Linked DNA regions of Homo sapiens. The protein of the gene in region 4 purifies or fractionates together with the protein of the main gene of each other region. This does not show direct contact. Each region holds a gene or a part of one and is shown on either strand. Other genes may lie near its edges. The genes, in order: CAD, VDAC3, UQCRC2 and ATP1A1.

Region 1 (8,023 bases), on a different chromosome or scaffold from region 4:
TTCCGAGAAGCTGAGCACAGCACCTCCCAGCCGGGCCATGGCTGCTGCAAAGGAGCTGCTGGTCCGTGTGCTCACTTCATAGAACATGGAGGCCATGACCTTCCCCTAGGGAAAGAGCAAGATGGAAGGTGTACGTATGCGTGTCCACCCTGGGGAAACCCCAGCTAGGCACCACCACCCCAACTGACACTTGAGGGGTGCTGTGAGGACCCTTCTGCACCCAAACCTCCCCTGTGACCTGTCAGAGCCTTGACGTTTCCACCACTGGTGTCACTCTGAGCTAAAGGCTCTGCCTCCAGAAAACCACCCATCATTAAGTGTCTGAACGAGCTGGGAAAGGAGGACACACCCTAGCTCTCTCCCATGATTGCAGCAGCCCAGACCAGAAGACCCCACTAGTGGGGCGATGGTCTCATGCTCAGGGCCTCCCCAGCCAGCTAAATCCTGCTTTGGGGAGGGAAAACGTGGGGGAAGATCTACAGCAGCAGAGGGATGGACTAGCATAAGGGGACGGGATGGCAGGGGGAGGAAGACCCACTCTGACCACTGCGCGGCCCTGCGCTGATGCGGCCCAAGGGCAGGCGATGGCCTGGACCCTACCCCCGGCCCTGATCCTGACCTTCAGGATGTCGAGGCTCCGCTCCTTCTGCACCATCATACGCAGTGTGTGTGCCACATTGAACAGGTGAGACATCTAAGAAAGAGCCCAAGTTAGCTAGAAAGGTCCTAGCCCCAGCTTTCCAAATCCTCAAAGCTCTGGGTGGTCCCATCCTCCCTGCCCCAGGCACCTGATCCTTGGTGAACTGCTGGACGGACAGGATATGTTGGCCCACTAATGAGTGCAGCAGGGGTGAGGTCTGGGGGTGCAGCAAGCCAGGGGTCCCCAGGTTCTGGGGAGATGCCTGTCTCGGTACTGGTGGTGGAGGGTAGCAGGTGCCATCAGGGGTTCCCATCAGCTCTGCAGTGAGGGATGGGGCAGAAAAGGCTGGTCAGAGGGTTCCTCCTACCAAGGCCAGATCAGAGGTCCCCGAGGTGAGTGTGTGTCAGGGTGGAGTCTCACCTGGCTCGGCTACCTTCCGAGAGGACTTCTCCTTTGGCTCCTCAGCTGCAAACAGGACAAGAGGACAGATATACATTTATGGCTGAGGTTTGGAAAGAAACCCCATATTCCCAGGAACTCTGAATCACAGTGTATATGTTAAACCAATTCACAACACAGTAATATAGCAGGTTAGGGGAGGGCAGGGGACTGCAGCAGCTCTGGGGACAGACAGGTGGCTTCCCATGGGGCTGTGTTGTATGGGAGCAGTGGTGCCCTCCCGGGGCTCTCCCAGTTGGCAAAGGCATCCTAGGCAAGAGGAACGGCCAGACTCACACCAACCAACAACCTGGATTTACCCCACGCTCTGCTGCCCCGTGGGATCCCAGCTCCTGGGCGGAGGAACACAGCTGCCCACAACAAAAAAGGGCATGTGAGAAGCTGTGAGATGTCTACTCACACCGGGGAGACTTGTTTAGGCAAAGGATGGCACGGCAGATCAGACGAGGATAAAGGGATGGAGAGGAGGACATGTAAGTAGAGAAAGGCGAGGCACTGGGAAGAAGTGGATCCTGTCCCTACACAGTCTCTGAGTCACAGGAACCCCACTCTTACCTGGCAAACCTGGGTCGGAGGCTCGATGGATTCGGGGCGGCAGATGGAAGCGGCCATCAGGAAGCCCTGGGATGCCACGGCGGGGTCTTTCAGGTGTCTGGAGGGATAACGTTGGCCCAGAGTTGTTTTTTTTTTTTTCTTTTGAGACGGAGTCTCGTTCTGTCGCTCAGGCTGGAGTGCAGTGGCGTGACCTTCTGGGTTCAAGCAATTCTCCTGCCTCAGCCTCCCAAGTAGCTGGGATTACAGATGTGCACCACCACGCCTGGCTAATTTTTTTATTTTTAGTAGAGATGGGGTTTCACCATGTTGGCTAGGCTGGTCTTAAACTCCTGACCTCAGATGATCCGCCTGCCTTGGCCTCCCAAAGTGCTGGGATTACAAGTGTGAGCCACCACATCTGGCCTGGCCCAGCATTTTAAAAAAATAATTGACCCAACCCCACTTCAAATTCAGTCCCTCAAGAAAACCCCAATTGTTCCTGAACCACCAATGAAAATGTTCAAGCTGTTCATCCTGCCCTGAGACTAACACCTCCCAGCCCCCTAGCCCAGTAGTGTGGATACCGTGGTCATCTCACTAGTGGCAGGGGCTGAGGGTGGGAGCTGAGGAACAGCCCCCTGTGGCCACTTCCGTACATCCTGTCCATAGCCCGGGGGTACCAGAACCTGCAGGCAGAAGGCAGGGCACTCAGGAGGGAGCAGAGAGAACTCAGGTCCTAAAGGGGTAGATGTCAGCAAGGACAAAAAGCACCTTGGGGGAGCTGTGCCCCCAACCCCTGGTCCAGGGCAGTGGTGCACATAGTGGGACAGTGTAGATGTGCTGGGAAGGGAAGAAATGAACGTGGTGCAGAAGAGGGCACTACTGAGATCAGGCAGGGGCTACTTGCGTACCTGCCCATCGATATAGGCAACCTCCCCTCGCAGGACCACACGGCGGACGGTGCCCTTCACTTTCTGCCCTTCAAAAGGTGTCCAGTGGGCCTTGGAGAAGGGCATGTGGCTGGGAATTGTCCACTCATGCTCCAGATCCACCTGCCCAGAGGACATGGGTTATGCTAGGGAAAGGATCCCCAGAGAACATATCCTAGGGCTGGAGAGCCCCCCTCCTGCTCTGGGCCTCATCCCCACACCTCCACATAGGTGTCCTCCTGCGGGGGCAGGTGAAAGATGCGCCGAGGATTGTGGTGCAATCGCTGCAGCAGGTCGTCCAGGCTGAGCCGGCCCTCGCTTACAGCCGTCAGGAGTAGTGGCAGCATGGTCTCTAACCCTGGGAACCCAGGTGGGGGCCTGGACCCACACTTCTCCTCCAAGGTATGGGGAGCTGGGAGAAAGAAAGCCATTACCCTCAGGACCAATCACCTCCATGTCTAGGAAGTCACTCACACCCCAGGACTGCACTTCCAACAACCTCCTTATGCTCACTACCACTCCCAATGCTCATTTTTTCTGGGAACTAGAAACAAGGGCAACAGGACTGCTGCCATCTTCTGGAGCCCACACTTTTACCCATGTATTCTTTCACTTGCAGTTCTACTCACTGGCTCATTCATTCTTTCAACAAGTATTTATCAGGCACCTATCACAGACCAGGTACCCTAGAGGCTAGGGTCCCATACGGATCAAGACCCTGTCCTAGTAGAGTCCTGAGGCCTGGCCTGCTTCCCATTTTCTTGCTAGGGCTGTCCCACAAGCCCCACTGGGCAGAGGAGGTACATGCTGGATTCTCTCACCATGGTCTGAGGCAAAGCAGTCGATGACAGCCATGTTCTCCCACAGGGCTTCCACATCCTGGCGGGAGCCAAGCTCAGGCCGGACCTCCCCCTTCCCAGGCCCCAGGCGCTCCAGGTCATCATGGCTTAGGAACAGGTGGTGGGGAGCCACCTCGCAGGTCACTGGCAAGCCCCGTGCCTTTGCAGCTTTAATTAGCAGGATCTGGGGAACAATGGGAAGATCCAGAAGAGGCACCACCCATATGCCTTGCCCTACACAAAGTCCCAATGGCCAACATCCCTGCTCAAAAAATGATGATGTAGACCTGCAAGGGTGCTGGCTCGAGACCCTCCTCCTGCTGTCTCCAGACTCTCCTCCTGCTGTCTCCTGCCCCTAAGGACTACCCTGACCTTTGGTGTTACTGGGAAAGCAACAGGGACAGCAGGATCTCAGGTGTACTCTTACCTCCTCCTTCCGTGCCACGTGACATATGTGCACTGAGCGCTGAGTGAGCTGAGCCACCATGAGGACAGCAGCCACGGTTTGCTGCTCTGCGTGAGCCACAATGGGGAGGTGGGAGGGCCATGTCTCGAAATGCTGGGAGCAGAAAGAACTGATGAAGGAGTGTGCAGAATCTCTGACTGTGCTCATCAGAGCCCAGAGTCCCCAGGAGCTCCCCTGAATCCTCACTGCTACCAGCCCACTTAGGCAGGGGCCCACAAGCCAGGAGACACTGGGTGGTGGCCTCCTGCCACATGCACACTCCCTACCTCCATCCACTGGACCACGCTGTCCAGCCGCAGCTCAGAGAAGGTCTCATTGAGGTAAAGCTTCAGCCCGGCTGCAGACCCGGCCACGGTGCCCAAGGTTCCTGCATTTTCAGACGAGGCCCCAAGGAATAGCGCAAAGTCGCACCGGGCGCCAGCCTCTGCCAGCTGGAGAGGATACACAGAGGTAAGGCTCACTGGCACCCATGCCCACACAGGCTAGCCTGGCACCAGTGGCCTGGGCCCATAGGGCGGGGCAGAAGGAAAAGGGCTCAGGGAAGCAAGGGTGGCTGGTAGGGGCATATGGGTCTCCAATACCAGGAAGAGTGCAGTGGCTCACCTTCTGGGCCAGGGCCAGAGCAGGGGCGTCAATGATGGGGGGCCGGGTATTAGGCATGGCACACACCATGGTGATACCCCCAGCCAGGGCAGCGGCTGTGCCTGAAGCAAAGTCCTCCTTATGTGTCCCACCTGGTTCCCGCAGGTGCACATGGACATCAATCAATCCTGGGAGAAAATGGAAGCAGCAAGATTACAGGAAGATTCAGAAATAGGAAGGGTGAGCTGGACATGGTGGCTCACGCCTGTAATCCTAGCACTTTGGGAGGCCGAGGTGGGCAGATCACCTGAGATCAGGAGTTCGAGACCAACCTGACCAACATGGTGAAACCCCGTCTCTACTAAAAACACAAAAATTAGCCTGGTGTGGTAGCACACACCTGTAATCCCAGCTACTTGGGAGGCTGAGGCAGGAAAATCGCTTGAACCTGGGAGGCGGAGGTTGCAGTGAGCCGATATCACACACCACTGCACTCCAACCTGGGCGATGGAGTAAGACTCTGTCTCAAAAAAAAAAAAAAAAAAAAAATTCCTCAGACAAGGCCACTGTGGACACTGTGGATTAAGGAATGAAAGAGTGAGAAACATTCTGGGGTCTTCACAGTCTGTGCAGTCCAGGACAAAGAGTGGGCCCCCCAGCCATCCTTCACCACACTGCAGGTCTCTATGCCAGGGGCTGCCAGTGTTCAGAAGCCAAGTTCTCCCCAAAGACTTACCCGGCAGTCGCACAAGCTTTTGGGAGGTCATACAGTCAACATGCACCTTCAAAGGAGGGGCTGGCCCGATCTGGCCTAGGGCCTGCAAGTGGAAAGCAGTCAGCTTTAAGGGAAGGGTGATCCTGGGAGTTGTAGGGAGAGATGTGGTTTTCCCATAAACCAGGCTCTGCACACTCTATACCCACCATCTCTCCCTCTGTAGCCACAAAGCTTTATTACTAGCATGGCTGTTCCATACTCACTCCTCCCTCTTTCTTCTTCCCATCAACACTGGCAGTCTCCCTCCCAGCACATGGGTCTCAGTTACCTCCACAAAGAGTTTGGTGCACTTGATATCGATGATTAGGGGCACGGAGAAGTCAGCGGCCAAGCGTCGGGTGCGGTAGCCCTTGGTGACAAAGGAAGAGAGACGCCGGCCCCCAGCTCCACGCATTGACAGGTTAATCACCAGCTCAAAGTTTTTCTCAGCTAGCTGCTCCAGGATGCTCCGCTGTGGTGGGCACTCACCATCCACAGCCTCCTCAAAGTGCCAGTCCACAGCTGTTACCTGCCAACCCGGAGTCAAGGTCAGGGCCAAGCTGTCTGGCAGCGGTCAGGAAGGCTAGCCTTAAGGGAGAGGAGCTGGCCCAGGAGCCCATGATGAGGAGACTGAGGACCCATAGGGTGGGCACTGAGGGCTGCCTCTATTTGATACTGGCAAAGTGTATTTCTTGGCAGGAAAGATATCTACACTAAGTAAGATGGGTTACCAAGGACTAGGTGCAGTATGAGCTCACACACATGTACACAGAGAAAATCCTGGAAGGAAAAATATCAGAACAGTGGTACAGAGATTTTAAGAGACTTTTCTCTTTGCTTCCTGTGTATTCTGCTTTCTGCATGGAATATAGCTTACTAGTATAATGGTAATAATAAAAGCAGGGGAATAGGAGATAATTCTTTGTTTTTTTTTTTTTTGAGACAGCATCTCACTGTTTCCCAAGCTGGAGTGCAGTGGTGCACTCACTGCACACTCGCAGCTCACTGCAGCCTCTACCTCCTGGGCTCAAGAGATTCTCCTGCCTTAGCCTCCTGAGTATCTGGGACTACAGGTATATGCCACCGTGCCCAGCCCAGATAATTCTTTGGTGCAGTATTTTCACCCCCTTGGGGAAGGGCAGCAGTGGGGTAGGTTGCCAGAGTTCCTGCACCTTGACGCCATGCTCAGTGTAGAAGTCAGCTGTGCCGAGACTGGCATAGAGGCTGTAGCCCAGGCTCTCCAGTAGCCGCACAGTTGGGAGCAGCTCGCTTTTGTTCTGAAACCAAACAGAAGGATGAAATTGTTTTCTTCCTGTCTTCCATTTCAAGGTCAGCCCTGGCCCAGGGAGCCACGGCCCTCGGGAAGCCCTCCTGGATTCTGATACCTTATAGCTGCCAATGGTCAGCAGGATATTCTTCTTGGGGATCTTAAAGCCAGTGCTTAGCATGGCCTTGAGGTATGCCTCACAGCGGCTCTCCCCAAAGCCGGCCACCTCCCCAGTACTGGTCATTTCCACACCCAACACCACGTCAGCACCCGCCAAGCGGGAGAAGGAGAACTGAGGCACCTAAAGGGGCGGGAGGGAAGAGAGAGGGCCAAGGTGTGAGAGGACCTCCTCCCTCACCAGCAGAGACGGACACAGTACCCTGTGCTTGATCCCATCTGAATGGCAGGGTCAGCCTGCCCTCTCTGTGTGCCCTCCTGCTTTCCAAACGTACTTGGGGTCATCCCTCAGCTTCTGCTTAGGATGTGCCCTTGCAAATAAAAAACCTTAACCATCCTTCAAAACTCAATTCAAATAGCACCCCTTCGCTCAAGCCTTCCCAGATCACCCCTTTTGGAAGCAGCACCTCCTGTCTCTTGAACTCCTGCAGCATTCTGTTTACAGGTCGAATATGTAGTTTTACCACGGACTGTTCTATACCAAAGCTTTTTTGGGGATCCAACTTCTCTTCCCTCCCATTACCATAAAGTAAGCTCTTAAGGGACAATGACCACCTCATTACCCCCACGATCCGGCAATGCCTTGCAGTCAGTGCCTGGTTTACATACTGACAACTCTGTGTGGTGAGTGAACTCTCTCCCGCTATTTTTCTGCTAACCCCAAGGGTTTCGATATTCCTTACCTTTACTCCCACGACTCCAGAACCAGTCATTAGCCCCACAGGTTCCACTTCTTCCCCCATGATGACCCGCGTGGCCAAGGCTACTAGGTCCACACCCAGTGTCTTGGAAACGAAGGGGAAGGAGCGAGAGACACGTACGTTGCATTCAATAACTTTCAGCTGGTCATCCTGGGGCAGAGAAGACTGGTCAGGCCTTCTGCAGGTTGGCCTTGCTGACACTATCTATAGGCCTAGACTCTTCCTCTCCGTCCTCAGCTCTGGGGGATCAGACTGAGCAGGGTTCAGGGTCACTGACTGTCATAAGCCCCAACACCATGAGCTCTAGCTACAGCCCTTTCCCTCCAGCTTCCCTGCCTACTTGGATGAAGGCAGGAGACAGTGCAGGGCTTCATGGCACTGTGGCCAGCACAGAACATGCAAGAGCTGTGGCCCTTTAGTTCTTTCCTTTAGCCTTATTACCTTGGCAATGAGCTGCAGATTGAAGGGTCCTGTGACCTGTAGCTCCTGGCCCACAGCATGCACAATGGCTTTGATCCGCTCCAGGGTTTTGGCAGTGATATCTTGTGGGGGGGTCACCAGCGTCGCATCACCTGAATGCACACCTGCATTCTCCACATGCTCAGAGATGGCGATGGCTGCCACCACACCATCAGAGGCCACGGCATCCACGTCAATCTCCTAGCGGGGGGACAC
Region 2 (8,023 bases), on a different chromosome or scaffold from region 4:
TGCATATACATGTCCATATTTAATGTTATCTGGAATGTAGAATAATATATATAACATTTATGTCTCTTTGTCTGGCCCTGAGGACAATTAAATTAGGGGGTAGAACTTTTCCTCCCTCCAAACAGTGGCATTGTTTTTATGAAAGTGACAACATAACTTTTGACTTCTTTGGAGTAATGTATATTCTGATCCTAAATAAATATTTTTTAGGTTTTAAAATTTAACTTAAATTTATGTGCTGTACATATTTGATTTTTTCTTATTAACTAGTAATGTTAACTATATTTTAAACGATATATATAGCAGCACACTATTTTCAGCAATTTTGATTCTTGGAATAGTGCATATTCCTTTCATTTATTTTTTTCTTTAACTTACATTTTAAAAGTATATCTTTATTCATTTTGAGTGCTTGAAAATTATACTGCATTTATTTGGTTATAATTCAGTTTCTTGAGGAACTCTCACCCAATGAAAATACTATGCATTTTTCATATGGAAGGTACTATAGGCTATTTCATAATTTCTGAGTTGCAAAAACTAGTGAATGTCACATTTTGTACATTACTGTGTTTTTGTGTGTGTGTGTGTATAGGCTTTGGCATGGTCAAGATAGACCTGAAAACCAAGTCTTGTAGTGGAGTGGTGAGTATCTAATATATTTTTAATGAATGTAACATAATTAACTTAAAGGAATCTGTTTAAAATCATGACAGTCTAGTTACTTGAACCAGCACCATGCTGTCTTCCCCACAGCTTTGTCCTCTCAGATTTTAAACAGCATTCTTAGCCAATTAAAATAAACAACCAAGTTGAATTTTTGAAGAGACCTTTTGTGTTTCTCAGAGTATACTACAGCTTTCACTCAGAAGATGTAGAATATATATTTTTTGACCCATGTCATATGTTTATACTTTCATGAATATGTATATGGGCACCAAAAACCTCACTTCCATGATAATGGGTTCATGGAAATTTTATTACCCTTTTACAAAAACAAATTAACTTTACTCTGCCCCTTCATGATTAGTCGAAACAAAATATGTAAATAAAATGTATTTCTGCACGTATGCATGTACATTATTCTACAGTTTTTAACTGATGTTTATAAAGTTTTTTTTATTGGAAGTAAAGACTACAGTAAAGGCTATGTTGGCATATTTTCAAAGTATCATTAACAATAGCTTTTGGCTGGGTGCAGCGGCTCACACCTGTAATCCCAGCACTTTGGGAGGCCGAGGTGGGCGGGTCATGAGGTCAGGAGTTCGAGACCAGCCTGGTCAACATTCTGAAACCCCGTCTCTACTAAAAATATACCAAAAATTAGCTGGGTGTGGTGGCACGCACATAGTCCCAGCTACTCGGGAGGCTGAGGCGGGAGAATCTCTTGAACCTGGGAGGTGGAGGTTTCAGTGAGCCGAGACCAAGCCATTGCACTCCAGCCTGGGTGACAGAGTGAGACTTTGTCTTAAAAAAAAAAAAAAAAAGGCCAGGTGCGGTGGCTCACGCCTGTGATCCCAGCACTTTGGGAGGCCAAGGCGGGCGGATCACGAGGTCAGGAGATTGAGACCATCCTGGCTAATATGGTGAAACCCCGTCTCTACTAAAAATACAAAAAAATTAGCCAGACCTGATGACGGGTGCCTGTAGTCCTGGCTACTTGGGAGGCTGAGGCAGGAGAATGGCATGAACCCAGGAGGCAGAGGTTGCAGTGAGCAGAGATCGTGCCACTGTACTCCATCCAGCCTGGGCAACAGTGCAAGACTCCGTCTCAGAAAAAATTGCTTTTATTTAATAAATCTCAGCAAGTAGGTTAAGTTTTAATTTACCTTACTCTGATTTCTCCTCATTGGCTGCATCGTTTTTGGTATTTATCCATTCAAACCCATGAAAATTTTATTTCTGAATGTATAATTAGAAGGACAAAGACATGTGGAATTCTAATGATACTGTGTATAATCATGGTTTGTGACCATCATTCTTTCCCTGGGTTTCTCTGGAGTAAATAAATATATATGCACCTCCCTTACTAAGATGGGCACGCTGTGTATATAGTTCTGTTAAAATAGAAGAATCATTCTCATTTTGTGTAGGTTCCAGAATTTGCTCATTAGGTTTGTGTTGCAAAAATTATCAACTAAAATTTTATCTCCCTTTCATGCTGCTGTTGTGTGGTAATATTCATTCAGATGGTAAGAAAAAAAAGCTTATTCGTATGCTTGTTTTTATGGCTGCTTTTGGTTTCTGGTATTGATTTAGGATAAATTTCAATCATTGTTCCAAATTTCTTAGATTGTGTCTTGATATTTTTCTCATATGCTATCTACTTAACAGTAACATTTTTGTTTGTTTTGTTGCTTACTAAGCATTTAATGTAGAGCTATATGCATGTTATATGCATGTTATAAATGTGTTTTGCACTTGTTTGACCAAATTATGAAATTAGACACAAACTGAACTGTGAATCGTGAGCCTGGAACTCAACTTAGAACAATTCTAGCCTTTTTTTCTGAGATTTGTACCTGTGGCATTTTAGATTCGTGACAGACCTTCAAACTAAGAATTGATGCTGACAAGGGAGAAATGTAGACTACCCCTCTACCTTAATTTTGTGCATAAGGTTTTTCTAGCACCAAAATTAAGATTTGCATTTGTTATACTTGTCAAGTTTGTGAAAAGTAAATGTAAAAAATAAAACACTAGATAGTTGGATCTACTAAAAGAAAAATGATTGTCACGTTAAAATAATTATGTGAACAGTTAAACATGATTAACATGTTATCATTTTTTTTTTACTAAGGCCTTCCCCTAAATGTGCAGCATGATACTCTCTTTGAAACCATTCTGTGTGGTTTGATAAACAGAACATAACTTCCCAGTTGTCTCATCTGCCTGTAGAACTAGAGTTAGGGGACAGGGCATTTGTTAAGGAGAGGATTCATGTTGCAGGCAGTGAAAAAGACTGGTCAGGGTTGGCAGCATCTCATTACTGTTGGCAGGATTTCAGAAATGCTCCCTAAAACAGGACCAATCAGAATGTTTTTTCTTGACAGTTCATAGATTGTCAGTGACAGGTGCTGTCTGCTTTCCCCAGAAGGAGGTCCATTTCTAATTGCTTATTGTCATATGACTTAAAGGGCACTGAACTAGGGCAAAGGATGTATTTTATTTTATTTTATTTTTTTGAGACAGAGTCTCATTCATAGTAACTGTTTGATAGAAAGCACTCTTAAAGGTAGACAGGATAGAAAGGGGGAAAGAAGGATAAATTATAGCATTCTACTTTATTTTGAAAAATGGGTAGTACTTTCAAATATTGAAATTGTCTAAGCAGAAGTTTTGCAGTTTTGCACACAAAAGCATTAAAGTTTTCACAGCAGTGTGACTGTACTTAATGCCACTTCACTGTACACTTAAAACATTATTAAAATGGTAAAATGTATGTTACATGTATTTACCACAATAAAAAAAAACATTTTTAAAAGGAAGTAGTAAAGTGTTGACCCTATTAAAAAGGAGGAGGGCAGTATTTTGGGATTTTTAAGGACCTTGAAATTAACTGATAGTTTGAAACATATAGCAGAGAACTGATAATCTTTTTTTAGGTCATGAAAGTAAAATGTTTAAGATACAATATTTTTGGTCTTTTTAGTAAAGGCATTTGTTTTCAGTAAAGATACTTCTTTTTTAAAGGAGAGAATTTAGGATTACCATTTGGTAAGAGAGTATATGGAACAAGAGATATTAATAAGAGAAGTAGAGTAATGGAAAGATCTGAAACTGGTATTGAGCTGTCTCACTCCGTTGCCCAGGCTAGGGTGAAGTGGCATGATCTCGGCTCACTGCAACCTCTGCCTCCTGGGCTCAGGCTGGGACTACAGTCACGTGCCATCATGCCTGGCTAATTTTTTGTATTTTTTGTAGAGATGGGGTTTTGCCATGTTGCGCAGGCTGGTCTTGAGCTCCTGGACTCAAGGGATCCACCCGCCTTGGCCTCGTAACATGCTGGGATTACAGGCATGAGCCACTGCGCCTGGCAGAACTGGTTAAAATATTTAGGGACTGGAAAAGCAAGGGGAAAGGAGGAAAGAAGTTGCTCTAGAGTAGGGCTGTGGCAAGCAGTAAATGGTATTGTTTTTGATACATTGAACACTGCTTTCCAAAGTGAATATTTTCTATTTGATGAGCTAATTTTAAAGTAATTATTTTTTCTTGCTTACCAGGAATTTTCTACTTCTGGTCATGCTTACACTGATACAGGGAAAGCATCAGGCAACCTAGAAACCAAATATAAGGTCTGTAACTATGGACTTACCTTCACCCAGAAATGGAACACAGACAATACTCTAGGGACAGAAATCTCTTGGGAGAATAAGGTAAGAGAACGCATTAGAAGTTATTCATAGGTTCAATTTATCTTGTAGATTGAATGATGAACATACCCCAAATATAATCAAAAGAGATCTTACAACCTATCTAGTAGCCATATTTTTTCTCTGCATGTGGCCTTTTTTGATGTCTTATGTTTCTAGAAAATAAGGCTTTGTTTGTGAGTACTCTAATTACTATATTACATCTTTGTTCTGACTGGTTCTCTGTTACACAGCTAAGCTTCTCCTGGGTAGAACAAACTATTTGCGGAAATTTGGTTTAGTTTTGTAATTGTTGAAAAATTGGCTTGACAGAAAAATTTTTCTAAAATGTTCTCATGTTTTCAAGGAGAAAATCTATTAGATATAGTCAAGTGCCCACTATGTACAGGGCACTGTTTTTGATAGAGATACCATGTATAGATAATGTACATGCAAAACTGAGTAAAATGACTTAGCCTGCTTGTTAAATGTCAGGTTATCTCATTACTGCTCTTTCAAGAGAGTATCAAGATGATTTTGTTGTATGGGAATTCTGTTTGGTTTTGAACTGTATTTTATGTAACTTGCTAAAATAGGATTTGCCCCATTTTTTAGTGGGAGAACCATGATGAAGGCTGGGGTGAGGGGACAGGAGGATGGAGAGCTTACTTATTACATAATTTAATATTTTGCTTTCTTGAATGACTCCTTTTTTTTGTTAAAGAACTCAGGAAACTTTAGAATTGGTTTCTTGAGTTGGATAAATGATTGAAAATTACTAATTATTTATTTTAAATCTTTGTTTTTCAGTTGGCTGAAGGGTTGAAACTGACTCTTGATACCATATTTGTACCGAACACAGGGTAATTATTCAAATCCCATTTCCTGAAACGTTTTTGGAGCCTGAAAGGGTAGAGAGCTTTAGAATAAGGAGATATAGTGCAAAGTTCAGAGGCAGGAAGAACTCAGAAGGTTGCTATAAGGAATATTGGAGACCTTGTATAGGTAATACAGATAAAGGAAGATCCCTCCCCACCAAGGCAGGATGAACAATTTGAAAACTGAATAGATGAGCAAAAATGTATAAATGTATTTGAGAGAGACACATGGTAGAAAAAATTTAGGAGCTAGAAGAGTCTTGAGACCATAGATGAATCTTAAGCAATTCTGAAGATTGATGGACATGGTATTCTGCTGAGAAAGTTAATTCCTTTTGGCTGGGCGTGGTGGCTCACGCCTGTAATCCTAGCACTTTGGGAGGCCGAGATGGGCGGATCATGAGGTCCGGAGATGGAAACCATCCTGGCTAACACGGTGAAACCCCATCTCTACTAAAAAATACAAAAAATTAGCCAGGCATGGTGGTGGGCGCCTGTAGTCCCAGCTACTCAGGAGGCTGAGGCAGGAGAATGGCATGAACCCAGGAGGCGGAGCTTGCAGTGAGCCGAGATGCACTCCAGCCTGGGCAACAGAGCGAGACTCTGTCTCAAAAAAAAAAAAAAAAGTTAATTCCTTTTTTTTCCCCCTCACCCTCTCTTATGGTGCTGAAAAGTTAATTTCTTAAGAAGGTGATCTGGCTCTCAGATGCTATAATGATTAGTTCTGCTGCCTACTTGATTTCTTAGCCTCTGTAAATCCCCCAACTTCTTGACCTCAATTTCCTCGTGAAAAAAAGGGGGATTGTGTCATTTCCTATCTGCCTAATGTGGGTCCATGCTATCTGAAGGACGGAGGTTGCTAGATGAATGCAAAGTGACATTTGTCTCAGCCGTAACAACAGGTGTGTTCTTTTTGCCACACACTTCAGTTATCTTTAGGACAAATATTCTTTTCTTTTTTTTTTTTTTTTTTTTTTTTGAGATGGAGTCTTGCTGGAGTATAGTGGCACTATCTCAGCTCACTGCAAACTCTGCCTCCTGGGTTCAAGCAATTCTCCTGCCTCAGCCTCCCAAATAGCTGGGACTACAGGCATGCACCACCACGCCCAGCTAATTTTTGTATTTTTAGTAGAGACGGAGTTTTACCACGTTGGGCAGGATGGTCTCTGTCTTGACCTCGTGTTCCGCCTGGCTCGGCCTCCCAAAATGCTGGGCTTACAGGCATGAGCCACTGTGCCCGGCCAGGACAAATATTCCTACAAGAGGCTTGATTGGAATAGGGTTATTAAGAACTAATTTCATTTTTTCAGTATTGTCCTTCAAAAAAGCATGCTTCTCTCCATGATAGGTTAATAATGTATATTGGGGATTAATTCTTTGTGGCATTTGGCATTTGGAAACATTTAAAGAGATTTGGCTTCTTGTACGTCTGTATACATACACCTTCAGATTATTAATTTGGCACTGAAATATCTTATTCATTCTTTTTTTTTCTTTTGAGACGAGTCTCGCTCTGTCGCCAGGCTGGAGTACAGTGGCATGATCTTGGCTCACTGCAACCTCTGCCTCCCAGGTTCAAGTGATTCTCCTGCCTCAGCCTCCCAAGTAGCTGGGACTACAGGCGTGTGCCACCACGCCCAGCTAATTTTTGTATTTTTAGTAGAAACGGGGTTTCACCATGTTGGCCAGGATGGTCTCAATCTCCTGGCCTCGTCATCCGCCCACCTTGGCCTCCCAAAGTGCTGGGATTACAGGTGTGAGCCACCACACCCAGCCTCTTATTCATTCTTATACTTTTGTTCATGCTTTTATGAAATAAATCATGAAGTATCCTATCATTTGAACTTATAATGAGTAATAGATGATAGTAGTCTATACATGTCTAATCCTAACAAAATTATATTTGTAGAACTAGGTCATTTGAAATGTTTTTACTATATATGTGGCATGTACCAAAATAATATTTACATTGGGAGATGAGAGAGAGGATCTTACTCTAAAAATTCCTAGACAGTAGTAAGAACTCATGTTGTTTTCATCATTTGCTTTTGTTTGTTTGTTTATTGCAGAAAGAAGAGTGGGAAATTGAAGGCCTCCTATAAACGGGATTGTTTTAGTGTTGGCAGTAATGTTGATATAGATTTTTCTGGACCAACCATCTATGGCTGGGCTGTGTTGGCCTTCGAAGGGTGGCTTGCTGGCTATCAGATGAGTTTTGACACAGCCAAATCCAAACTGTCACAGAATAATTTCGCCCTGGGTTACAAGGCTGCGGACTTCCAGCTGCACACACATGTGTGAGTGTTTATAATTTATTCCTTAGTATCAGTGCAGTTGCCCAAAATATTGTAGCCATTAGCATGCTGAGAAGTGATGGTACTCAGATTTAGCATGCCTTGGTGAATATCCATCCTTGCGGTGCTATCCTCATAGCAAAACCTTGCCAGGAGGCTGGTGCACGTGGTGTGCAGGCTGTGCTGCTGGTGGTCACTGGCCCCTCAGCCTGCACCCCAAACTTGAGGAAGCTCCAGCCTCTGTAGAAGAACCACTGGGATAGAGGGAGCCCAGAGCATGGCTTACCTCATGGTAAGATGACCCTTTGGAGATGTTACTGCTTCCTCTGCTGCCCTCTCATCTTGACAGTATCTGGAAGCAGGTCTGTTTTGGTCACCAACAACCACCACCAAATTGATCTGAGCATCCTGGGACATCCCGGTAATTCTGTGGAGGTTTCAGGTACTGGTATTCTCGGTTGGAACCCAGGTACCGCTAATGCATTCAGAAGTAACAGGT
Region 3 (8,023 bases), on a different chromosome or scaffold from region 4:
ATCCTCCCACCTCAGCCTCCTAAGTAGCAATAATCTACTTTGTCTCTATAGATTTGACTATTCTGGACATTTCCTATAAATGGAGTCATACGATATGTGGCCTTTTGTAACTGGCTTTTCTTACTTAGCATAATGTTTTCAAGGTCCGTCCATATTGTAGCATGTGTCAATTCAATGTCTTATTCCCTTTTATGGCTCAAGAATACTCCATTACCACATTTTGTTTATTCATTGATTGGCATTTGGGTTGTTTCTACCTTTTGGCTGTCGTAAATATAAACATTCACGTGTACATTTTTCTTAGGAAACCTGTTTTTAGTTCTTTTGGTTATGTCTAAGAACAGAATTGCCAGGACATATGGTAACTCTGTTTAACCATTTGGGGAACTGCCAGACTGTTTTCCAAAGTAGCTGCACCATTTTACATTCCCACCAGCAATGCACAAAGGTTTTGATTTCTCCACATCCTCACCAACACTTATCGTCTGTCTTTCTGATTATGAACAACCTACTGGGTGGGAAGTGGTCATTGTAGTTTTGATTTGTATTTCCCTAATGACAAATGACATTGAACATATTTTCATGTGCTTTTTGTCCATTTGTATAACTTTTTTTGTTTGTTTGTTTTTTTGAGACAGAGGCTTGCTCTGTTGCCCAGGCTGGAGTGCAGTGGCGCAATCTCAGCTCACTGCAACCTCCACTTCCCAGGTTCAAGCAATTCTCCGGCCTCAGCCTCCCGAGTAGCTGGGATTACAGGTGCATGCCACCATTCCTGGCTAATTTTTGTAATTTTAATAGAGATGGGGTTTCACCATGTTGGCTGGACTGGTCTCGAACTCCTGAGCTCAGGTGATCCACTTGCCTCGGCCTCCCAAACTGTTGGGATTACAGATGTGAGCCACCGTGCCCAGTCAACTTTGGAGAAATGTCTATTCAAGTCTTTGCCCATTTTTAAGTTTTTTTTTTTAATTGTTGAGTTGTAAAGGTTCTTTATATATTTTGGTTACTCAAGCTGTTAGCAGATATATTATCTGCAAATATTTTCCTGCATTTCATGGGTCCTCTTTTTACTTTCTTGATACAGTGTTCTTTGATGGACAATGCAATGTTGTTTTAAGAGCTAACTATTAGAAACATGCTAGCGTCCATTAGGAGGGGATTGATCAAATAAATGGTGGTAGAGCCATAGAAAGGGATTCTTTATAACCATTAAATATTTGATGTAGACTACTCACTTAGAAATTTGTAAATTATGAAAGATAAGTTAGAAACAATATCAATAGAATGATACCATTTTAGAAATAAATTGAAGATAATATTAACTACACAGAAAATTCTAGATGAATAGTAATACTAAGTATATAGTAAATAGTTTAGTAATAGTAAACTGTAATTGGGTATCTCTGGGAGAGTGGCATTATGGCAGGAAGACTCTTATTTATTTTGTAGTGTTAGGATTTTACAATCGTATTTTTAAAACAAGGAAAAAATATTTTACGATTGTGTTTTAGTAATTGTGGTTCTAGCTTTGTTTTTGCTTCTGTTGAAACAGGTGTGAGTCATCCTGTTCTAAAGCAAGTTGCTGAACAGTTTCTCAACATGAGGGGTGGGCTTGGTTTATCTGGTGCAAAGGCCAACTACCGTGGAGGTAAGCATTTCATTCTATTAGGGTTAATTTATCAGAAGGGCGTTTCCCCACTAGAATAGCATATTGAGGTGGAATAGGCCTGAATATTTACTACTGAACAGTCTCGGCATAGAATTGGATGGCTTGGGTGTTGTATTTTGAGCATATGTTTTGTGTGTGTTTGGGGACAGGATGGCATGGGGAAAGCACCGAGCTGCAGAAAAGACTCGTGGGTTAATACTGTGTTGTAGGAAATACTGGAGAATGAAACCAATGGTGAACAAGCCATTTTCTTCTTCCCTCTATCCTTAATCTGGCCCCAGGTGAAATCCGAGAACAGAATGGAGACAGTCTTGTCCATGCTGCTTTTGTAGCAGAAAGTGCTGTCGCGGGAAGTGCAGAGGCAAATGCATTTAGTGTTCTTCAGCATGTCCTCGGTGCTGGGCCACATGTCAAGAGGGGCAGCAACACCACCAGCCATCTGCACCAGGCTGTTGCCAAGGCAACTCAGCAGCCATTTGATGTGAGTCTGAACAGTTGGTATCTCTCTTTTTGCTTTCAAAGGCTCAGTATTTAAGATATAATTCTGATAATCTACTCTTAAAATGTAAGACAAACACACAGAAAATCTTTGTACAATTGAAGAGATAGCCAGGCTTGATTTTAGTATCTTTGAAGGCCTATCAAAAACTCACTGGCTTTTCCACTTTGTCTATTACTTGTCATTAGTAATATAAAAAGAGGAATTGAATGCTTAGAAATAAAGGGAATCCACACATCCGTTCCCTTTAGAATAAAGTTGTAGATATTAAACTTTCCCCTAGATTCTAACTAGTCTTTTTTTCTAGATTTTCTTCTGTCCGCTTCTGTTCTTTTGGTTACTTCCTGAATCTCACTATTTGTTTTCCAACCAAGTGGACAAGATGAACACCAAGAAATTGTTTACAGACTCACTCATTCAGCTTGAGATTAAATTTGAAAAGAAAAATGAGAGGCTGGGCACAGTGGCTCACAACTAAAATCCCAGCACTCTGAGAGGCCGAGGTGGGCGGATCACTGGAGGTCAGGAGTTCGAGACCAGCCTGGCCAACGTGGTGAAACCCCCATCTCTCCTAATCCAATGAAGTAATTTAATAGAAATTCCTAGTTCAGAACTCAGCCAGAAATTTAGAGTATAAATAGGATGGCCTCAGAATTATAATTAAAGAAATTGAAGTCCAGGCCAGGCACAGTGGCTCACGCCTGTAATCCCAGCACTTTGGGAGGCCAAGTTGGGCGGATCACAAGGTCAGGAGATCAAGACCATCCTGGCTAACACAGTGAAACCCTGTCTCTACTAAAAATACAAAAATTGTCTGGGCGTGGTGGCGCACGCCTGTAGTCCCAGCTACTTGGGAGGCTGAGGCAGAAGAATCACTTGAACCCAGGAGGCGGAGGATTCAGTAAGCTGAGATCGTGCCACTGCACTCCAGCCTGGGTGACAGAGCAAGACTCTGTCTCAAAAATATATATAAATAAATAAATAAAAGAAATTGAAGTGCCTTCTTATGCTTTACGTGGACTGAGCCAATGGTTCTCCAAGTTTATTGTACATAAGAATTACCTGGAACACTTGTTAAAAATCTGGGCTTCCAGGCTGCATCCACAGGGACCTGAGTCAGTAGGTCCATTTTGGGAATCTGAAAGTTTGTATTTTTAATAAGAACTTAGATAATTTTTATGTAAATGGTCCACATAAACACTGCAAATCGGGTTCACCCTAGAGAGCTAAAAGCTCTGCTCAAACTAGATAACAATATCCCTGTTATTCAGAGGTTAAACTCTTGATAGCTTGGACATCTGGATAATGACCACTAAGCAGAAATTTTTCTCTAACTTTCTGACATGAGTGTATAAGAGAAATGAAAGTAAATTGGTGAAAAAGTCCCTACCAACAGCAGAGAGAAGAAACCTGGTCTGCCTAATGCCAAAGCCTATCTATATTATAATAATAATGTTTGCAGATTAGTGTTTGCATAAACCTTTAATCATCTAAAGCAGGTTAGAAAATACCCAGCATAAAGGAAAGGGAGCAGTCATTTTAGAAATATTTAAATGAAAAAACAAAGCCGTGATAGTTCTGAAAGAGGTAACCTATTTACAGAATACTTCAGTTCGTGACAGAACTGGCTAAGTAAAATATTAATCTATTTTGTTTATACCGTGAAGGTCCAAGTTTTTTCTAGGCAAACTTAAAGAAATCGTGCCCTGTTTTACTTGGTAGAATATCATACAGTAAAGTCTCATTATCTTTCAGGTTTCTGCATTTAATGCCAGTTACTCAGATTCTGGACTCTTTGGGATTTATACTATCTCCCAGGCCACAGCTGCTGGAGATGTAAGTTGCAAACTCACCAAACTTCTTTCATGAACAAGTTATTTCTCCCCCCCGCCATAAACATGTTTTCGGTTAAAATATGGAATGTTTGAATGCAGTGCAATGACTTATCAGAGCTCTGTATAGTATGATGTCATTGAAGCATTATCTGCTATAGGGAAATTTACACATGTATACTAATGCTTCCAGGAAAGAGGAGAGAATTGCCTCCTTCATGTTTTGGTTCTGGTTGGACAAGTTGCATTGAGTTGGCTCTGAGACATCTAAATTGAGAACCCAGGAGAGGGGAAGACCAGGAGGTTTATTTGCAAGTCTTCAGTGTAGAGATTGTGTTGAAATCAGGGATATGTGTGAATGATTGTAGGAAAAGAAAACTAAAGCTCAATTTCTGGGAAACAACACCATTTAAGGAGCAAGTGGCTAAGAAAAATGGCCCAGGTAAACAGAAAGAAAAAGAGAAGCTGATATATTTGAAGGATAGGAAAGAGAGTATGTTTAACACCATTTTGACCCACAGTGAAATAACATTCATTACCACTGAGAAGTCTGGTAGTTTCAGCAAGCTAGGACATCATGGGTGATCTTAACAGTTTTGACTAGAGTAGTGGAAATTGGGTAAAATGTGTAGTGATTAAGGAATGAATGACAAGTAAGAAATGAGAGGTTGGTGTGGGCTAGTGGAGCTTAGACATTCAAGGAGCAAGTTGTTTTAGGAGAGTTTACACTGAGAGATTAGGTTGAAAGAGACATACTGAGCAAAAAGATCGGAGCAGATATCGGAGATAGAAAATTATAAATGGCTCAAGTCTGAGAAAGGAATACTTGGGATCCAGCACACAAGTGGACCTTTTAGCCTTACAGACAGGCTAATATTGGAAGATATTGGGAAGATGGGGAAGTACCTCCTCAGTGAGACAGGAGGCTAAGTCATGTTTTGACAGACGTGAGAGGAAAGTTTAAAGAAAGTAGTGAAGTTTGGGACAGACAAATAGTGAGGTACACAAAAAGTGGGTATTCGCTGTAGTGTAGATGTATCCTTGAAATCAGCGACCACAAATTCATAGTACAGTCAGTCAGCACTGTCATGTAATTTTTCTTCAGTTGCATTCAGAAGCCTAATAGAGAAATGGAGGAGGTAGGTATTAGGGTTAATCCCAGGTTGGAATCCTGCAAAGTGGGCAGGTGAGAAGTATGAGGAGATAGCAAGGGAGTTGGGAGCATTGGCAAGAGTGATTAAAAGGATGATTCAGGGATCTAGGCTCAATAGAGAAGTGAAGCCAGAGGGGGCCTGATAAATTGAAAGACTGGACAAGTCAAGGAACTAGAGATCTTGATAAAGTGGAAGAATAAGGATAGTGAGATTAAAGACTGAGGTCGGGGTCTTAGAATTGAGGGCTTCAGAGGTATGCAAATTTAGGCTATGATCAGGTCTGGGGTGTGGCTCTGAAAATGGGCAGCTAAAATGAAGGGGAAACAGAGGTCCTAGAATTTAGGTGATCAGAGGGAAAAATAAGTAGCAGACCCAGCCAGCACTGGGATGGAGAAAATCATGGTCAGATTTATTTATTTATTCAACAAATATTTACCAAGTACCCACATCCCCGGAACTTTATTCTTTCTTTCTTTTTTTAAATACCATACAAGGATTCAGATTCCTTCTTGACCCTGGCTTACAAAGTATGGACAAGCCTTACAAATTGGCTGTGTATGGATTACTACTCTCTTCTTAGTGAATAGTAAGAGATAGCAGTATTAATGGCATGACACTGCAAGAGTCTGGGGAAGTTTTAAAGGTGCTTATTCTTTATGGGTGATTAGAAATCCATGTGTTTGGCCGGGTGTGGTGGCTCACACCTATAATCCCAACACTTTGGGAGGTTAAGGTGGGAGGATCACTTGAGCCCACACATCTCTACAAAAAAAGCTAAAAAATTAGCCAGGCCTGGTAGCATGCACCTGTAGTCCCAGCTTCTTGGGAGGCTGGGGCAGGAGGATTGTGTATAAACAGCTGCTTTATGAACATAGGAAGAATAAGGAACCCATAGTGATGACAGCATTCCGCATGGACACTGTGCTGTTTGTCTGGAACTAACCTTCCATCTGTGTTTTTGCCTCAGTAAAGAAGTGTGTCAGTGCTGCAGGAGACTCTGGTACTGACCACAGATGACCAACTTTTCTTATCTGTCCTAGGTTATCAAGGCTGCCTATAATCAAGTAAAAACAATAGCTCAAGGAAACCTTTCCAACACAGATGTCCAAGCTGCCAAGTAAGTCTCAGTATTAACTGTGTTTTATGTTTTTGTTATTTGAAAGTTGTATTCTTTTCAGATTATAACAATATTACAATCTATGCTCATAAGGACTGAGAAGTACAGAAAAGCGTAAAAAGGGAAACATACCCATATCCTACCACCTAAAGATATAATTGTTAACATTTTGGCCAGGCACAGTGGCTCACTAATCCCAGCACTTTGGGAGGCCAAGGCAGGTGGTTCATTTGAGACCAGGAGTTTGAGACCAGCTTGGGCAACATAGCAAGACCTCGTCTCCACCAAAATTAGAGAATAATTGTTAACATTTTTCTTAGTTTATTGATCATGCATTTTTAAACATAATTGTTAATATTGTATATATAGATGCTGCTTGACTTACACTGGGGTTACGTCCTGAGAAATGCGCATATCGAAAATGCATTTAATACCCTAATAACCCAGTCATCCAGCCAAACAAACATAAGTCAAACCATCATAAGTTAAGTTAGGGACCATCTGTATACTTTTTTATCTTATTTAAATAGCATCCTTATTATAGAAGTTTGAAAATTACAAATAAAAGACAAAAATGATCTCTGATTTCCCTAGCAATGATTCTGTTTCCATTGATTCAAATTACTAAAAATTTAAACAATATTCATTGGTGTGTCAAAATACACTTGTGCATTTTCTGCAGTTATAAAGATATCTTTGGGCTTAAAATATTTTTGTGTTTCGTATTACTTTCTTGGTGTAGATTCCCAACTAAGTTAAGAGTTATAAACATAACGAAAGACTCCATGTTAGAGTGTGTGTATGTGTGTATGTTTAAATAATACATTTGACTAGGCGCAGTTGCTCATACCTGTAATCCCAGGACTTTGGGAGGCTGGGGCAGGAGGATCACTTGAGGCCAGGAGTTCAACCAGCCTGGGTAATGTGGCAAGACACTGTCTTTACAAAAAGATATTTAAAACTAGCCAGGTGTGGTAGTGTGTGCCTGTAGCCTCAGCTACTCAGGAGGCTGAAGAGGGGGGATTGCTTGAGCCCACGAGTTTGAGGCTGCAGTGAACTAAGATCACGCCATTGCACACTAGCCTGGGCAACAGAGCAAGACCCTGTCTCTTAAAAAAAAAAAATGTATTTCTAAGTCACAAATCTAAAGAGATTGTACCAGTTTATAATCATACCACCAGTATATAAGAGTACCTATTCTACAATAGTTTCTTTCTTCATAACTAATTTATACCCAAAAAAGATCTGATTTTGTTTTGTTTTATAAGAAAGACTAAAATACTTGTCTGCTATTTGGCAATTTATAAATCCCCACTGTCCAGATTGAAAGTGCTATCAACACTCCTAATTCATTAGTAGTTCGAGGGTTTCTCTAAAAGAGACAGACTTGGGACAAAGTTGGAAATCAACCTGCATTTTCATACAGCCGCTTAAGACATTTAAGTTTGACTCCATCTACTTAGAACAATTCAAAATGTGAATCTTGCAACTCCAGTGGTCGTTATGATCATTTAGTATTGCCCACAGGGGAAGCAGAATTACAACCCAGGATGGAACAACCTTTTGGTCATTTCTGTTCCCATTAGTATTGTTAGTTTTGTTATGCTGAGCACACTACAAAGTTGCATCTCTTGTATAAGTACAACACAATTTATTAAATATTGTATACATAGAACCAAGAATCGATAGGATGCAGGGCTGCTTGATTGTACCAGAAACAAAACATGATGAGAATACATTGAAACACTGGAT
Region 4 (8,023 bases):
ACTTGGCTTAAACCGTCAGCTAGGCCTACCACCGGCAACTGTTTCACTCACCAAAGGTACACGCCATAACTGTTTAGAAATGTGGGAAAGTTTGTCTTCTCAAGTGTGTAAAAGATGAGGAGGGGGGGTCTCACCAGGTCTTTCACTGCATTCCGGATTTAGTTTGAATATTATTTACCGAAAAAATAAATCATAGCTTATGAGTAGTGATTTAAGGAAGGGCAGGGAAAAAAGGTTCCAGTGAAGGTGGCAGGGGGGATGCACATGTCAGCAGAAATCCTGGTTGTATGGTAATGTTATCAGCTGCCCTTTTGGAGCTCAGCTTGAAAGTGTGACTAAAGCTCCTCTGGCTGCTATAAAGCTAGTACTTTAGACTTAAAGCATTGTAAGGCAGATGCCTCAGAGTGGAAAGTTGCCCGGGCCTGGCCGGGAGCTAGTGGAGCAAGTTACAGGAAGAACTAGTGCCTAGAGCTGGGGGGTGGAGAGAGCACTTGTGCCTCACCCTTTGCCTGTCAGTTGTTCAGCGTGTAACAGTTCCCTGCTTCTTAGGTTCTTTCTGTACCCTTTTATAAGGGTGTATCCCCTTTTGGTAACTTACTGTTTGTTAATTTGTAGTGTTCCCTGCCAGTAAGCTTGTAACACTCTAGTGACTCACCTTCGGGTGGGAGGGTAGGAAAGGGAGAGGCCTGCCTCCTAAACCTGGGAAGATGGGGAGAGAGTGGTAAACCTGAGAGCCCAAAAAACAAACCAAAACAAAAAAACAAAAAAAAAGATGCCTTTAAAAATTCAGTTAGATGTTTGCCCAGATGAGGGCTAACACTTAAAATATACAGATTCCTGGGAATGTTATTCCTAAATTGCATTCAAAAATAAAAGTGAACTCAACATCTTATAGCACAATAGGCTTGGCACTCATCCATGCTCCATGCCAGTACCCTCAGTCATTGTTTTCGGATTATTTTAGCAACAAATGAACAGATAAGTGACTTTCCATTCAAATCAGGCTATGTTCTTTTAAATATATCTAAACTTAAGAATAAGAAAGGCTTTAACTAAAATAGCTTTGAAGGATTTTGTATGGTAAAGTAAAATTGGTTTCTTCACTTAAAAACAAACAGGTTTAAAAGTAAAATAAAATAAAAGCCCTGAAGCTTCAGTTTCTCATCTGGCTTTTGGATAGAATGCTCATCCTGGGGATCAAGTGAAGTAATCTATGTTCTGTTTATGGAAGGAGTGCTGTGCCAGCCTGAGTTGTGGCTATTGTTATTGGGCTTACATAGGTACAGTAATTAGAGCCAAGAGAAGATCAAATCTTTACAGACTGGGTTTGTTGTTCGTCAGTAAGTCATTAGCCCTTGCAAAATTAGAGAGCAGTTTTTCTTTCACCATGAGAACATATTAAGGTTTGAAAATAATGGGAAATACTGTTAATTGCCCTTCATAGGAAAGTCAAGTAGAGGTGTCAATTGACATTATTGCAACTGTTATCTTCGCTCAACAAGCAAATCTCCTGTTTAATAGCATCTTTCTGTCTACTTTCACTTCTCAGGTGAAGGACTTTGTTCGCGGTTGATGATCATTTTTACGTTTTTGAAGTCTTGCAAAATAAAATGGGCTTTTCGGCCTTCTGTGATGAGAGGGAGCCTGAACATTTGTGCTGTGCTGACTTCTTCTAGCTGCCGAGGGCTCTCTGCCAGCCAACAGGCTAGAAGAAGAAACCCGAGTGTCAGATCAGATGGGCTCACAGTAATCAGAGTGGCTGGGTTTGGACGGCAAAGCACCAGGCAAAATGTTTCCCATCCCTGCCAGAGCTGTCCAATTCTAGATTACACTGAAAGTACATGTCCAGTACATGATAATGTGCAGTAGAGAGAACTGTAAAACCTACTCACTCATTTTAAAACTCTCCATTTATATATTTTGGGGGAGGGATGTGGAACCTAGTCAGGTCTGAACTTTCTCACGTTGCTATGAATTGAGTGTATGAGAGGAAGTGTGTATTCTTTGGCTGGAGTCATAGAGAGACTGTTCTTAGCATATGACTCACCTCATTAGTTGTGCTGAAATCTGTTGTCAGGAATCCACAAGAAGTTCTTCATATTTATTTTGTGTTTCGGATAGCAGATTCTGTTACGAAAGAAGTACCCTTCACCCTACACTTTCTCTTTGGTTTGGTTTTTATTTGCATCCTGAGCAAAGGGATTTTTGATCAATAGACCTCATTCCTTTGTTCCTTTGTGACTTTACAGTGAATCTCTTTATCTGGTTTTAGACCTCACTTACTAGTTCCTTTGTGAGTTATGATGAAATATATCTGCACGTGATCTCTTTCCAGTTTTATTCAAACCCTATTTAGTAATGACTATTGGCTGTCTCAGTGATTTGATAAGTTGATTCATGATAGTTCGTGCTTTGTCCTTGGGACTTGTATTGTTTGGGAGCCTGATAATCAGTGTAAGATTTTGTGACTCAGTGGGCCTTGCTGTGTAGATCGGTGAGCTGTGATTGCTCTTTCTAGTCTGTTACCATGTAGGGGCAGGTCCCTAATGCACTTTGGGGTTATCCTCTTGTGTGTTTCTTTTATCTTCCACATGATGCTTCCATGGCACCATATTTGTTTTATTATTTCAATTCATGTGACATTTCTTTAGGGCCTTGGACAGCCTTTATCCTCTTCAGCCTGGCAGTCATTTTCCTTCCTAGCCTAGGCTTCAGGGTACTAATTGAGGAGTGATCAGGACTTACTGGGAGTTGATCTGGTCCTCTCATAACGCATATGCTGATTATTAATCAGTTGTCTCTAACCAGAGCAATCTGGTAAAATGAAAAAAAGGAGGGTAAGGTGGTCAGCAGAAAGGGGGAGTTAAGGAATAAGTAGAAAGTTTTAACCCTTCATAACCCATGCACCTAATGTAGAGGTAGAATTTTCCATTGAAGAAACTGAAGTTTTTGTCTGATTGTTCTTAATAACTGTAAAAGCAAAAATATATCTAAAGTGCACTGATTCTTTACACCTTTTAGAATTTTTATTTTTTGAATGATCATGGATGTACACTACTGCAGGTAGGGTAGGCTGTCAGGCTCATTAAGAATTGACATGCAGGCAGATTGGGGAGGAAGGTTAAGTCATGTTCTTTTGGGTTGAGGGAACCTGCTGGCTAGAACTGTCGCTGTTCTTTGACCCTTGCTGGCTGCTGGGCTGCCCAAGTTTGGATATACTAAACTGGGCTCACAAAGGGATCTACTGCTTTGGCCTTGGTAAATTATATTCTCCAGGATGCATATTTGGGTGGGCAAGAGAAGGAATATGAAGGCATGGTGGCCCCTCAGGCTCACCTCCTCTGCAGAGAACTGCTGCTCCTGCAGTGATGTGCTGCTGCTGGGGCTGGATAGCAGCCATGGTACTATGACAGTGTCCTCCCTCAACCCCGGCCATCCCTTAGCCCTCCAGTCCCTGGCTAGACAATTCCTTGCACATAAACTAAACTACTTAGTCATTTAGGAGCAAATGGAGATGTAATAAACTGGGCTAGATCATTTCTTGACTGTTATTTTCTTTAAGTTTTCACTGTTAAGATCAAATGAAAAATAATGCCAAAGGAGTTTTTTCTTCAAAGGTTTGAAAAGAATTTTCATAGAAAGCGAAAAATGGCAGTAATGTATATGTTAATTAAGACCAAGTTATAATAATAGCCTTTGTGTAGTGCTTTGAGAATACTTTTACATACACAATTGTGTTGGATGATTTAATAATGTATCGACCAGGAAAATGAGAAAGCACCCCTCCCCCTTACCTTTTACATTGAAGGTAGCCCAGACTTGGCAGCCTCTAGGGAACCAGCAAGGTCAGAGTCCATCACACAACTTTCCTGCTAAAGTGGTATTTGCCAAATCATGTCCAGAGGTGTTGTTTCTACAATCTTCTTGGCAACTCCGAAATGGGCTGCATTTGGGGCACTTCCTTTTGCCATCCTTCTGGCCCTTCTTGCCCGTCAAAAGCTTTTGTCTGTGGGCTTTGGAAATAGTCCAGTTTTTAAGGTGTTTTATTTTTCAGAGTTAATGGTTTCTTGACTAATCAGACTATGAAAATGCCTTCTCTAGGTTCTTTAATAGTTATACCAAGTGTTATTCCCATTTTAGGAATGAAGAAACTAAGGCTGACAGGCAAAGGTCATGTAGCCAGCATGTGGCAACACTAGAATAAATTGGCAGACTCAACACCATTAGCAGACCTGTCTGGAGGGAATGGTGGGTCTTGAACTTTCAAGTACCCTCTAAACTTTTTCAGCAGGAATTTCAGAAGTCTCAAGAATTCTGAGCTCCCTGCTGGCCATGGGACATTGTGCTGATATGGTGGGAAAAATGCAGGTTGAGAAAGCCTTCGCATCCTGCCCTGTTGGAGGCTGGTGTTTGGGATGGGTATGAAGGCCTTTGGCGGTGGCTATAGCTTATGCAGACCTGAAGCAATATACCTCTGGGATGGAAGATCCTGCTTATTTTGGGATAATTTCTAAATCTGTCATATCTATCCCCAACCCTGTCCCCATTAAATGGCTAATTGCCAAAAAAGAGGAAGCAACATCTTCAGCTCTAGCAAGTCTCGGGGATGTCTCACTCATTGTGAGGACTGTGAGGATTCGGTATATATTTTTAAGTGAGTGAACCTTGTTACATGTTTTAACCTTGGTTCCTCCTGTCAAGAATTTTATCTTCTCATGTCTTGGGCACCTTTTCCCTCTACCCAGATCAAATAGCAAAATGCTTAGTTAATCTTTGAGAGGATAGAATCCATGGGAAGCACAGGATGAAATGATGACGCTGTGCTAAGCTGTGTCACCGTGGGTAAGCCCCTGCCCTTGCTGTGACTTTCCACTTCCTAAATTAGAATGGAAGGGGGAAAAAAAAAAACCATAACCCAACTTCATTTTTATGAGTGGCCCTTTAGAAAATAGTGTAATCCGTTGAGTTTCCATTGTACCTTTCCTCAGAGATGCTCAAAGGGGCGGGGGTGCCCTTACATGGAACATGATGAGAGTGAGGATTAATCACTCCCAGTCCTCTGGGAGGGGGGAAGTGACCTGAACTTTCTAATTGAAAAAGTAGGAAGTGTGTGCCCAATGCCCAGATGAGTGGGAAGATTACTGTAGTTGATTGAGGAAATGCCGTATTTATCATTCACCCTTCCCATGACCTTTGTTTTTCCCTAATGCCTTAAAAAATAATAAGGAAACATTGTCCTACCTGATTCTACCACTGTTCATCTCACGCAGTGTGCACTCCCTGACTCTGAATTTTGCAGCTTTGAGACTGAGGTAATTGAGACTGATAGGGATTTAAGGATATTTGGTTCCCACAAGAATAAGCTAATATTAAGTTATTATTTTACTTGTGGAGAAGAACTAAATTGTATAAGCTGCCTGGTTCTTCTAGACACACATTGCCTAGTGAAAAAATTAAAATTTTGAAGAAAAAGCAGTTTTACTTGTTAATACTTGCCATGTGTCTCACCCACAAATAGCCTCATTTAAAACTTTGCCTTACCTAGCATGAATGGATAAAGAAAAAGGAGAGTTATTAGGGAATCTAAATTCCCAACTAACTTTAGCACTGATAGTGGTGAAGCTATGGGCAAGACATTTATTTTGTAAGTGGGGGTAAAACTTTGGAACGTGTTCAAAGCCTAGCTGCTCTAGTAATCCTCTCTCCTCTTCTGGAGTGGAAGATATTGGAAGTCTGAGAATAAGCAAAGCATGCAGATTATGAAGCTGAGGGGTTATAACTATTTCATTTATTGAAATATATTTCAATGATATTCAACTTGCTCAGAGAGAATCCGTGAGCTGTATTTTAAAAATCAATACAGGCTGGGCACGGTGGCTCACGCCTGTAATCCCAGCACTTTGGGAGGCCGAGGTGGGTGGATCATGAGGTAAGGAGTTCAAGACCAGCCTGGCCAAGATGGTGAAACCCCGTCTCTACTAAAAATACAAAAATTAGCCAGGCGTGGTGGCGAGCGCCTATAATCCCAGCTACTCAGGAGGCTGAAGCAGGGAATTGCTTGAACCCTTGGGCGGAGGTTGCAGTGAGCTTAGATTGCGCCACTGCACTCCAGCCTGGGCGACAGAGTGAGACTCCATCCCCAAAAAAAAGAAAATTAATACAAAGTGGTCACATAAATCTTTTAGAGATCCTTAGTCAATGTCTTTAAAATGTTTTTTAAGTGTTGTGCTTTCTCATTAAAGGTATGATATACCTTTAATTAAAGCTAAAGATATACCACTTTAGCTGTGGTTCCTTTCTGGTAGATGACCTGCCTTTTCCTTTTTGTTTTATTTGTCCACTTGTATGTGTTACTATTTTTCATTTAAACTCTGGCACCAAGAGCTGTACCGAAAGAGGCACCAACAAATGTGGTTGCTCCATAATGGAGAGAATGTCAAGAATGTTGACTATCTTTAGACCTGCTTCATTAATAGATAAGATAGAAACTAAAGAACCCACCCAGTTGGAAGAAGTTATTAGTCAAGTAGTGCTGCACACGTGACCACAGAAGTTAAAAAGGTAAATAATGTGTCTCTACATGTGGCCCACTCCAGTGAATTTGGAGAAGGATTTCTCCTTGGAGTCTTAAGAGGATATTTTTAAATTTAAGTGAACAATGTATTTTATTTGCAACTATTAGTTATGACTGAAACACACATAATACGTTTTGATTTTCTTTTTTCATTTCAGCACAGTGAAATTATAATCTGGACACGAGTTCCTAATTATTGCTTTAGTAGCTGGTAATGCACTTAGGAAAGTTAGAAATGAGTAAAGGAGAACCACAAAATAATAGTAATAGCACCATATGTCATGCATTTTAAGAAAATTGCTAATGTCTACTTTTTGGCCTTAAGTTGTAGTTGTGGGAGGCTGCTTCAGGGGGAGGTGTCTGGAACAAGGGGCTCTTCTGCTCCGCTAAGCTTTGGAGCACCAAGTTCAGGCTTTGTGTAGATAAGCTCAAGGATTTTTCAACAGGGGTGGGGGAGTGGAACAATCTAAATTTAAACTATAGAATCAACATTTTCTTTAAAAATTGTTCCAGTTTTCAAGAGGCGTAGGTGGATCCTGTGAATTATGTGATAATGCACACGCTTTTCCTACATCCTGCTTATGTCAAAACATTTCCAGAGACTTTCATTTTGGAGGTTTTATTTTCAGGCTACAGAATGGGCTGGGCGCTCCCTTTTTTATCTCTTATGCAAAGAATTTTAAGGAGTCTTAGGCTGACTTTTTAATATGGGAAGCTGGTAAAGGTCAGTGTTCTTATGTGAGCACTAAAGATATTTAAATTTGATATGTAATAATGTCTTTGCAAAGCAAAGAATATAAACAGTATAAAAGTACTAGCATTTAGATGTATTGTATCATTTAATCCTTAAAAACATGAAATGAGGTTGGCACTATTCTTTATCTCCACGCTGTGGAAGAGGAAATTGAAATGTAGAAGTTAGTAACTTGCCTAAGGATACACTGCTGGTAAGTGGTAAAGCCCAGGATTTTAACTCAAGGCTGTCTGATTGAGAATGCGGACTCATAAGCACAATATTGCACTCTAAGTTAATAATGTAAAGTTAGTTTCATTCTTTCAGTAGGGAAGATGGAAGGCTGCAGAATAGGGATTTTGATAGCAAAAATCTCCTCATTAACCCCAAAAGGAAGTGGCACTGGCAGGGCCATTCTGAAGCCTACCGGTAGCTTCAGTATTGTTCTTAATGCTCTTGGATGGAGAGAATGTATCTTGAGCCAATGTATTAATAGTAGATTGCTTTGCTTATGTAGTAGGCAATATATGGGTATACATTTTCCTGACTATTATCTTAATGACTATTCCAAATTATGACTACCTTAAAAACTACCAAAATCCCCTGCTCCAGAATTTTCAGTTTCAGATGAGGTTCATAATTCATGGCCTCACTTTTCCCACATTCTCCTACAGGTTGGACGTGATAAGTATGAGCCTGCAGCTGTTTCAGAACAA

Evidence for each region.
Region 1: the proteins of ATP1A1 (region 4) and CAD purify together in Homo sapiens (affinity purification with mass spectrometry; 2 studies listed by BioGRID, with this or other methods). This does not show direct contact.
Region 2: the proteins of ATP1A1 (region 4) and VDAC3 fractionate together in Homo sapiens (co-fractionation; 2 studies listed by BioGRID). This does not show direct contact.
Region 3: the proteins of ATP1A1 (region 4) and UQCRC2 purify together in Homo sapiens (affinity purification with mass spectrometry; 2 studies listed by BioGRID, with this or other methods). This does not show direct contact.

The regions. Positions count from the first base shown.
Region 1 is NC_000002.12:27,233,993-27,242,015, reverse strand, and holds part of CAD (multifunctional protein CAD), read right to left. Parts: intron 8,009-8,023; coding exon 7,790-8,008; intron 7,499-7,789; coding exon 7,331-7,498; intron 6,772-7,330; coding exon 6,589-6,771; intron 6,481-6,588; coding exon 6,376-6,480; intron 5,733-6,375; coding exon 5,493-5,732; intron 5,268-5,492; coding exon 5,186-5,267; intron 4,638-5,185; coding exon 4,471-4,637; intron 4,299-4,470; coding exon 4,134-4,298; intron 3,961-4,133; coding exon 3,829-3,960; intron 3,586-3,828; coding exon 3,384-3,585; intron 2,975-3,383; coding exon 2,784-2,974; intron 2,686-2,783; coding exon 2,545-2,685; intron 2,320-2,544; coding exon 2,218-2,319; intron 1,752-2,217; coding exon 1,655-1,751; intron 1,450-1,654; coding exon of another isoform or gene 1,399-1,449; intron 1,106-1,398; coding exon 1,061-1,105; intron 959-1,060; coding exon 789-958; intron 695-788; coding exon 620-694; intron 106-619; coding exon 1-105. UniProt on the Homo sapiens protein: Multifunctional protein that encodes the first 3 enzymatic activities of the de novo pyrimidine pathway: carbamoylphosphate synthetase (CPSase; EC 6.3.5.5), aspartate transcarbamylase (ATCase; EC 2.1.3.2) and dihydroorotase (DHOase; EC 3.5.2.3).
Region 2 is NC_000008.11:42,394,489-42,402,511, forward strand, and holds part of VDAC3 (non-selective voltage-gated ion channel VDAC3), read left to right. Parts: intron 1-595; coding exon 596-645; intron 646-2,189; coding exon of another isoform or gene 2,190-2,192; intron 2,193-4,223; coding exon 4,224-4,376; intron 4,377-5,162; coding exon 5,163-5,215; intron 5,216-7,299; coding exon 7,300-7,527; intron 7,528-8,023. UniProt on the Homo sapiens protein: Non-selective voltage-gated ion channel that mediates the transport of anions and cations through the mitochondrion outer membrane and plasma membrane.
Region 3 is NC_000016.10:21,969,973-21,977,995, forward strand, and holds part of UQCRC2 (cytochrome b-c1 complex subunit 2, mitochondrial precursor), read left to right. Parts: intron 1-1,552; coding exon 1,553-1,648; intron 1,649-1,950; coding exon 1,951-2,150; intron 2,151-3,923; coding exon 3,924-4,004; intron 4,005-6,194; coding exon 6,195-6,271; intron 6,272-8,023. UniProt on the Homo sapiens protein: Component of the ubiquinol-cytochrome c oxidoreductase, a multisubunit transmembrane complex that is part of the mitochondrial electron transport chain which drives oxidative phosphorylation.
Region 4 is NC_000001.11:116,376,033-116,384,055, forward strand, and holds part of ATP1A1 (sodium/potassium-transporting ATPase subunit alpha-1), read left to right. Parts: intron 1-7,337; exon of another isoform or gene 7,338-7,521; intron 7,522-7,981; coding exon 7,982-8,023. UniProt on the Homo sapiens protein: This is the catalytic component of the active enzyme, which catalyzes the hydrolysis of ATP coupled with the exchange of sodium and potassium ions across the plasma membrane.